2 separate regions of the Homo sapiens genome follow, and region 1 is linked to region 2. The links come from fine-mapping of genetic effects on gene expression. A gene starts in region 2. The other region holds a variant in brackets. All regions are shown on one strand. Distances are from middle to middle.

The links. PIP is the estimated chance that this variant, and not a neighbour inherited with it, causes the effect. A credible set is the group of variants that fine-mapping cannot tell apart.
Region 1: its variant is the best candidate, but not a certain one, in a credible set for the expression of TMPRSS6 in whole blood (TOPMed, PIP 0.60).

What each region holds. Positions count from the first base shown.
Region 1 is chr22:37,130,733-37,134,732 of GRCh38, reverse strand. It overlaps IL2RB (interleukin 2 receptor subunit beta), which reads left to right. Exons shown (of 10, transcript NM_000878.5): 9 at 2,265-2,349. Among named protein-coding and RNA genes, the nearest start is that of IL2RB, 17 kb to the left of the region's middle. The variant C/T (reference allele first, on the strand shown) is at 2,167.
Region 2 is chr22:37,107,643-37,112,163 of GRCh38, reverse strand. TMPRSS6 (transmembrane serine protease 6) reads left to right here and starts at 2,451. Exons shown (of 18, transcript NM_001374504.1): 1 at 2,451-2,661. RefSeq lists an enhancer at 3,720-4,221.

The DNA.
Region 1 (4,000 bases), 23 kb before region 2:
GACGTATTGCCATTCCTTAGGATCCATGGAAACCAGTTCCAGGACCCTCCCTACCCCCTACAGATACCAAAGCTGGTGGATACTCAAGTCTCTGATTTTTGTTTTATTTTATTTATTTATTTTTTGTGAGATAGAGTCTCACTCTGTCACCTAGGCTGGAGTACAGTGGCGCAATCTCGACTCACTGCAACCTCCACCTCCAGGGTTCAAGCGATTCTCCTGCGTCATCCTCCCGAGTAGCTGGGACTACAGGCACACGCCACCGTGCTCTGCTAAGTTTTTGTATTTTTAGTACAGACGGGGTTTCACCATGTTGGCCAAGCTGGTTTCAAACTCCTGACCTCAGGTGATCCACTCGCCTTGGCCTCCCAAAATGCTAAGATTACAGGTGTGAGCCCCCACGCCCGGCCTCAAGTCCCTGATTTAACACAGCAGAATATTTGCGTGTAACCTACACACACCCTCCCAGAGACTTTAGGTCATCTCCTAGATTACTTATAATACCTAATACCATGTAAATGCTATGTAAATAGTTGTTATGCTGTATTTTAAAAATTTGTATTATTTTTTATTATTGTATTGCTATGAGGGTTTTTTTTTCCTGAATATTTTTGATCAGAGATTGGCTGAATCCGTGAGTGCAGAACCCACGGATCCTGAGTGCTGACTGTATCAGGAGCAGAAAACAGGGAGGGGAAACTTGGCTGGGGCGTGGCCAGGGCTGGTTTCCCTGAGGAAGGGATGATTCTGTTGAAATCTGTAGTGGGAGCCCATGGGGGGTGTGGAGGGGATGGGGAGAGTGTCCCAGGCAGAGGAAACAGCATGTGCAAAGGCCCTGGGCAGGCAGGAGGGAAGAAACTTCCAGGAACAGAGTGCAGGGGCGCTGGTGTGGCTGGAGACAGAAGTGGGTGGGGCAGGAGGCTGAACTTGAGCCTGGGCCTGTGGCGGCAGTGATGCTTCCTGGGGCCTCAGGCTGTGGTGAGGACCTGGGCCGTGTGCCGAGCAGTCATGGAGGGTTTCCCCAGAAGTGGGACAGGATCCACTTCGCCCTCTGTAGCCCTGGCTGCTGTGTGGAGCGTGGCCTGGTGGAGGGCAAAGCGGTGAGGAGGTGACACTTCTGACCGGGGGTTGTGGCCCCCTGATGAGAGCCCTGCTTCTCCCAAGAGGTTTGCAAAGCGTGCCTAGCTGTGTCACCTCACTCGACTTTCCCCAGCACTGGGAAGGCAGTGAGTCAGGGGCTACCATTGCCTTTTAACTGATGCCAGGACTGGCCAGAGAAGTCAGCTGACTTGCCCAAGGTCACATAGCCAGTTAGGAGTGACTGCCGCTCTCCTGACCCTCGTCCTGGAGCAGTGGTTCTCGGCAGTGTTCGGAGCCCCGTTTCCTCTTTCCTCCCAAGAAGACAAGCATTCCTCCACCCACCCGTCCCCTCCGCCCACAGCTCCCTGCAGGCCTTCAGGGAAACCATGTCCCTGTAGAGGGAGAGGTCCTCTCCCAGGCATGGGTTCAGTGGCCTCCAGACTGCCCTCCTCCTTGTCGTTCTTGCGCCCCTTCAGTGCTTTCTCCACCATGTCATTCTCCTGTTTAACACTCTTCAGAGGCCGCTCACTGCGCTGCAGTACACCCTGGCCCTTGAGGGCCTCCACCAGCTGTGTGGAACCTTTGGGCAAATCAAAAATGGTGCCTCTTTCTTCACGGTGATGTACACAGCTTCCAGGCACTCAGCTTAGCAAGCAGAACATGGGCTGGAATTCAGCCTCACTCACCACCACCTTTCCCACTCCCTGCCCAAGCCTAATGCCCTTGGGCAGTGTACAACCTGAACCACCATCCATGGCAGCCCTGACAAGAAAGCCCATCTCCTCTCTCCCGCCTCCTGGTTCATTCCACTTCTTCTAGCCATCTCCGTCCCTGACCACTCTGGCTTGTGTGTTCACCCCCATCGACCCCCACCTCCCCGTCTTGTGTAGCACTGTGCTCTCTGTCTCCACAGAATGAATGGTGATGTTGCAACATGCTTTGTGTCCATCTCCCCATGAGAATGTCAGCTCCTTGAGAGCAGGGACCTCCTTTGTTGGCCATTCTTGTCTCCCCAGTGCCCAACACAGCGTCCTCCCACAGTGAACACTTAGTATCGGCGGAAGAAATACATAAGTAAATGTGGTG[C/T]GGCTCCGTGCCTGGCATCCAGAGCTGTGGTGCCGATGGCATAACACCGCGGTCCTTCCCTTTCTCACCCTCCTCCTTCCCTCCTCTCCTCTGTCCAGGCTGAAGAAGGTCCTGAAGTGTAACACCCCAGACCCCTCGAAGTTCTTTTCCCAGCTGAGCTCAGAGCATGGAGGAGACGTCCAGGTAGGAGGCCGGGGCGGGGAGACAGAGGTGGGCAGGGGTGTGAGTGGGATGAGGGGGTGGCAGGTTAGTAGCTAATTTTGTGTTTTGTGAGAGGAGACAAAACGCCGAAGTGAGCAGCCTCCGGGGTGTGCATGGGTCTCTTCTCCAGCTCTGGCACTTTCCATCTGAGCCAGACTGCCTGGGTTCTAATCCCAGCTCCACCACATTCTGGCTGTGTGACCTTGGGCCTATAGAGCCTCCCTGGGCCTCAGTTTCCCCACCTGTTAGATGAGGAGAAAAACAGTGTTACTATGTGTCCTGCCCTGAGTACATTGCCTGGCACGCAGTTAGTGTTCAAAAGAACCCTATCAGGCTGGGTGCAGTGGTTCATGCCTGTAATCCCAGCACTTTGGGAGGCTGTGGCAGGTAGATCACGAGGTCAGGAGTTCGAGACCAGCCTGACCAACATGGTGAAGCCCTGTCTCTACTAAAAATACAAAAATTAGCCGGGCTGGTGGTGCATGCCTGTAATCCCAGCTACTCAGGAGGCTGAGACAGGGGAATCGCTTGAACCCAGGAGGCGGAGGTTACAGTGAGCTGAGATGGCACCACTGCACTCCAGCCTGGGCGACAGAGTGAGACTCCATCTCAAAAAAAAAAAAAAAGTACCCTATCTGGTATTACCGTTGCCGGTGTGCTGAACGAACAGGACCTGCCAGCACAAGCTCTCTCCACCCCACTGTCTGTGCAGACATGCTCTGTGCTTCTCCTGTCCCTGCTCAAAATTCCTGAGCAGGCTCCATAACTTAGCGTGGATACTAACAAGTCTTCCCGTCACTTTGAGTCACAAAACACCGATTCATTTTTAAAGTGCCGGCCCGCAGATCAGTAACGCTCTAAACTCCATCTCAGATTCCGTCGTCTCCTCTTCCCCAGCCCATGCCCCCTTCAGGCAGGAAGCTTCAAGAATGAAGGGGGGACATGGGGGGTACTTTTTACCACCCTAGCCCCACTCTAGGCTCCCAAGATTGGGGGGTGGGGATGAGGTAGGGGCAGAGGGAGGTCAAGAAGAGTGGCGGAGGAGGAAAGCCATGCCGGACCAGAGCTGTCATGACCTGGCTTTGGAGTTCTCTATCAGGGCTGATCAAGGGCCCCTTCTGGAACTCCTTGGAAAACTCCCAAGATGAGAATATCTTAGTTGCAGTGCTTTTATTTATTTATTTATTTATTTATTTTTTGAGATGGAGTCTTGCTCTGTCGTCCAGGCTAGAGTGCAATGGCACGACCTCAGCTCACTGCAAACTCTGCCTCCTGGGTTCAACCGATGCTCCTGCCTCAGTCTCCCGAGTAGCTGGGACTACAAGCACACACCACCACACTTGGCTAATTCTTGTACTTTTAATAGAGACGGGGTTTTGCCATGTTGGCCAGGCTGGTCTTGAACTCCTGATCTCAGGTGATCTGCCCGCCTCGGCCTCCCAAAGTGCTGGGATTACAGGCGTGCGCCACCGTGCCTGGCCATTAGTTGCAGTACTCTTAATGTGCGGGAATGTATTTCCTTAAAATTCTTCCCTCAGCCTTGAGGGTAGCAAGATTCCCATCTATAAAGGTATTCAAGCAAGCCATGGTTGCCTATGTGTCAGAAGCATAGAGATTCTCCCATTGAACTGGT
Region 2 (4,521 bases):
GCCCTGGCTCTGCCTGGAGATGGTGCTGTACTGAGCTCATGCCCAGCCCCCATGGGCAGGGGCCTTCACACCTTAGGACACAGGGGTGCCCCCCACGCACATGTCAGGGAGGTACCTGCCTACTGCTACAGGCCCCCTTAGGGAGCACACGCCAGAGAGCATGGGGCATCTACGTGCTTGAGACATGCGTGAGGGGCCACACAGGTAGGCACCACACACATGCCACCTGTCATTGCCTGGACTTCAGTGCACAGGCACACCTGGCCCCGACACACCAGCGTGTCACCATGAGAAGAGGAGAAACCCGCTCTCGGCGCCCCCCACAGTGCTGGGCCTTCGCACACGTTGTTTCCCGTTCATCAAGAAGGGGCGAATTTTTTTCATTCGACAGATGGAAGAAGCACCGCTCAGAAGTCAGGGAATCTGCCCAGGTTCCTACAACTAAAAGGGAGCCAGGTAGGGCTGAAAACCGGCGGTCACGGCAAAGCCCGGGCGCGGGGCCCTGTCCCATCCCAGCCAATCCATAAGCATCTCACACTTCACACCCGCTGCACACTCCACTCACACGCCTCACACTCCACACATGCCTCACGCTCCACACACACCTCACACTCCACACACGTCTCACACTACACACACGCTTCACACTCCACACATGCTTCACACTACATACACCTTACACTACACACACACCTCACACTATGCACACACCTCACACTAAACACATGCCTCATATTCCACACATACTGTGAGCATGCACACACACACACACACAGCTGCACACACCTCTCATGCTCCATACACACCTCACACCATACGTACCTCAAAGACACACACACCTTACACTGCACATTCCCAGCACCCACACTGCACACACATGCACAGTCCATATGCCCACACAACACACTTCACACACCCCCCACCCCACACCATACAAACCTCACAGACACACCTCTCACACAAATCTTATACCCCACACACAATCCCTACGCTCCACACACACACACACACACACACACGCACATTCTACACATACATAATCTACACACACAAATTCCAGACTGTCTCTCTTACACACACACTCTGGGACCCATATGCCCACAGCACACAGCATCTCAGGCGTGCACCCCGCATTCTGGCCTCAGGATGTAGACTCGCTGAAAGTCAGCCTTGTCTGAGACAGACGCCCGCTGCCCTGCACGCACCCTAGAAAGCCCTGGCTCCCATCCGGCACTTCGGCACGCATATGGCTCAAACCCATCTCCACAGCAACGCTGTTCCATAGAACAACAACGCAGGTCACACTTGTGACTTAACCTGTCTAATATCCACATGCAACAAGGGGTGTGGTGGCCCGCGCCTGTAATCCCAGCTACTTGGGAGGCTGAAGCAGGAGGATCATGTGGGCCCAGGAGCTCCAGACCAGCCTGGCAACCTAATGAGACCCTGTCTCTGAAAAAAAAAAAAACAAGAGAGCCAGAAGAAAATTGCTTTTAATAATACATTTTATTTATCCCATGATCACCAGTGTTATTTCAACATAAAATCAATATAAAAATTGTTATCGCGTTGGTTGACATCCTGTTTGCACTTGGCCTTGGAAACCTGGTGTGCGTCTCCCCCGTGCAGCTTTTCTCAGTTCAGACTGACTCAAGAGCCACGGGTGACCAGCGGCTACCGTCATGGACAGCACAGCGCTACGGAACCAGGTAGGAATTCATGCTGCGTGCGGTCGCTCATGCCTGTAATCCTAGCGTTTTGGGAGGTCGAGGTGGGTGGAATCACTTGAGGTCAGGAGTTCGAGACCAGCCTGGCTAACATGGTGAAACCCCATCTCTTCTAAAATTATGAAAATTAGCCGGGCATGGTGGTGGGCGCTGTAATCCCAGCTACCTGGGAGGCTGAGGCAGGAGAATTGCTTGAACCCGGGAGGCGGAGGTTGCAGTGAGCCGAAATCACACCACTGCACTCTAGCCTGGGTGACGGAGTGAGACTCCATCTTAAAAAAAAAAAAAAAAAAAAAAAAGAACGAGGTAGGAATTCAAATAATTCCCAGCTAAACAGAAAATAGCATCAAACCCCACCCCTGCCTCCCCTTTCTCCTCTCCAGTCCCCAGAGTATATGGGCCCAGCCTCCTTTTCTCTCTCTCAGGCCAGCAGCTCCTTTAGTCTCGCCTGTCCAGGTAAGCACCTGGACTCACCCTTGTGAGCCCCTGCACTCACCTGCACCGGCCTCTGCACAGTCCCCAGTCCTTGGCTGTCCCTACCTCATGCTCTCGGGGACCAGGGGCTGTAACCAGGCAGGCATGTCACCAGGCAACGGGCCTCGGGGGAGAGCTCAGATCTCCCGCACCTGCCTGCCAGCCTCTGGGGTGCCCATGCGGGGGTGGGGGAAGATGGGGCGGGGCAGGCACTGCCTTCTCCTACCTCCTGCCTGTTTACCTGTACTTAGTCACAGTGCTGTCCAGGACCCAGCAGGAGGAGTTCCATGGAGCCTGAGGCCACAGGCCACAGGGGACAAGGGCCAGACACCCTGGTCATGGCTCTAGGCCATTGATCCAGCCTGGGCTGGCTGGGTGGGGGTGGGGAGGCCTTGGCCTGGACAAACAGAGGCTCCTGAGGCCTGTGTGCAGGCCCGGCACCTATCTGCCGCTCCCAAAGGTAAGCGGGGGCCTCCAGGACAGGGGACCGGGATCTATAAATGACCTAGTGACAGTGTCCACCCTAAGAGCTGGGCCTGGCTCCCTGCAGCCTGAGCCACCTACCCTGCTCCGAGGCCAGGCCTGCAGGGCCTCATCGGCCAGAGGGTGATCAGTGAGCAGAAGGTGAGGGGCCCACAGAGCTGGGGAGGGGAGGGACCACGCAGGGTGACACCAGGTGTGTGGACAGGCACAGCATCAGTGCTGGGTGGTTGGTGGCCTGGGATTCAGGTGGCAGGGACAGGAGGAAGGGAGAGGCCACCCTACCCCTGCCTCGCAGGACTGGACATGCTGCCCCCTCCACACCCGGTACCCCACCTGGGCCTTCTGGTGTAGGAGACAGGCCCGGAGCCCCACATTGCACCTATGTACTGACTTAAGCCCAGGACCCTGGGCTCACAGGCTCAGAGTTGGCATGTATGTGTATGTGTGTTCGTGTGTGTGTCTGTGTAGGAAGGGCGTGCATCTATGAATTTTTGTGTCATGAATAGATGTGCGTATATCCCTCCGCGTGTCTCCATCTGTGTACATCTGTGGGTCTGTGAGTGTGTTTATATGTGTGGAAGGGACCCCCACCCAGTCCCCCACACTCTCAGGACTCTAGGGCCTAATGGTTTCACTGAAAGATGCCCCTATGGCCCTAGCCCAGAGTCCCTGCTCTGCTCTGCTCTGCCCTGGCTGAGGGACCTCGGGTAAGTCATGTTACCTCTCTCTACCTCAGTTTCCCCAGCCATTAAATAGAGTCAGCAAAGTAGGCACCCCAGGCTGTTGGAGGCTGCAGTGGAGTTTGCAGCACTGCCCAGCACAGGGCTGGCACATGGTAGGAGTTCATACGCAGTGGTTGAATCCGGATCTGCATTGCTGGGGGAGTCGCGGCCCCGCCCCAAGGAGCTCAGCCTCCAGCAGGCAGACCCGAGACCCTCCAATGGCCAGAAGGGCAGGAGGGAGTGAGGAGCAGGTGCCAGGGTGGGGTCCATGGTGCTCAGAGCTGGGGGACTGCTTCAGGCCCCTGTGGCAATTGGAGCACAGTCCCCGCTTCCAGGAGTTCAATGTGAGGGGCAAAGAGAGAGTGCCCACAGGTAAGCTGCACATCGCGAGGGGCAGCCGCCCCTTCTAGGGCACTCTGGGAGAGCTGCGAAGAGGTGAGGTCTGAACTGAGGTGACAGGGGCTGCATAAGAGCTGGCCAGGTTGGGAGGTGGGGGCCCAGGCAGAAGGAAGAGTGTGGGGACGCCTGGCCGTGAACAAGCACTGACAGGGCTCAAGGTCCACGAGGGCTCTTGGTGCCGGCTGGCTGCTCTTAATCCATAAATGTTTGCTACCATCCCATTGTTAAAATTTCTCACCAATGGAAGTCCAGTGTCCTTGGGGTGCGACGGGGAAAAGAGAGGGTGGGAAAAAAGGAGGCAGGAGAAGTTGGCCAGGCCACATATGCACACAGCACCTTGGACTTCTGTAGGGAGGAAGGAGCTGGGACCTTGTCATTCATTCATTTAACAATTACTGAGTGTCCGCTGAGTACCAGACTCTGCTCTCATGCAGCTTACAGACAGGGAGGAGGCAGATAAATGACATATTTGCATATCAGGCAATTTAGGCCTCTGTAATTGCTATAAAGAAAAATGCAGGAGAGACGGGAGTGCCCAGGGAAGGCCTCTCTGGAGAGGTGACATCTGACCCTTTGGAGGAGGTAAAGGAGGGAGCCACGAGGCCAGCAGAAAGGAAAACATCCCAGGCCCAGCAAGGAGCAAACCTCCCATTCAGCAAAGAGGACAGGAAAACTGAGACCCTGGGTCTTTAGGGACTGTGTTCTAGGTGGATGGA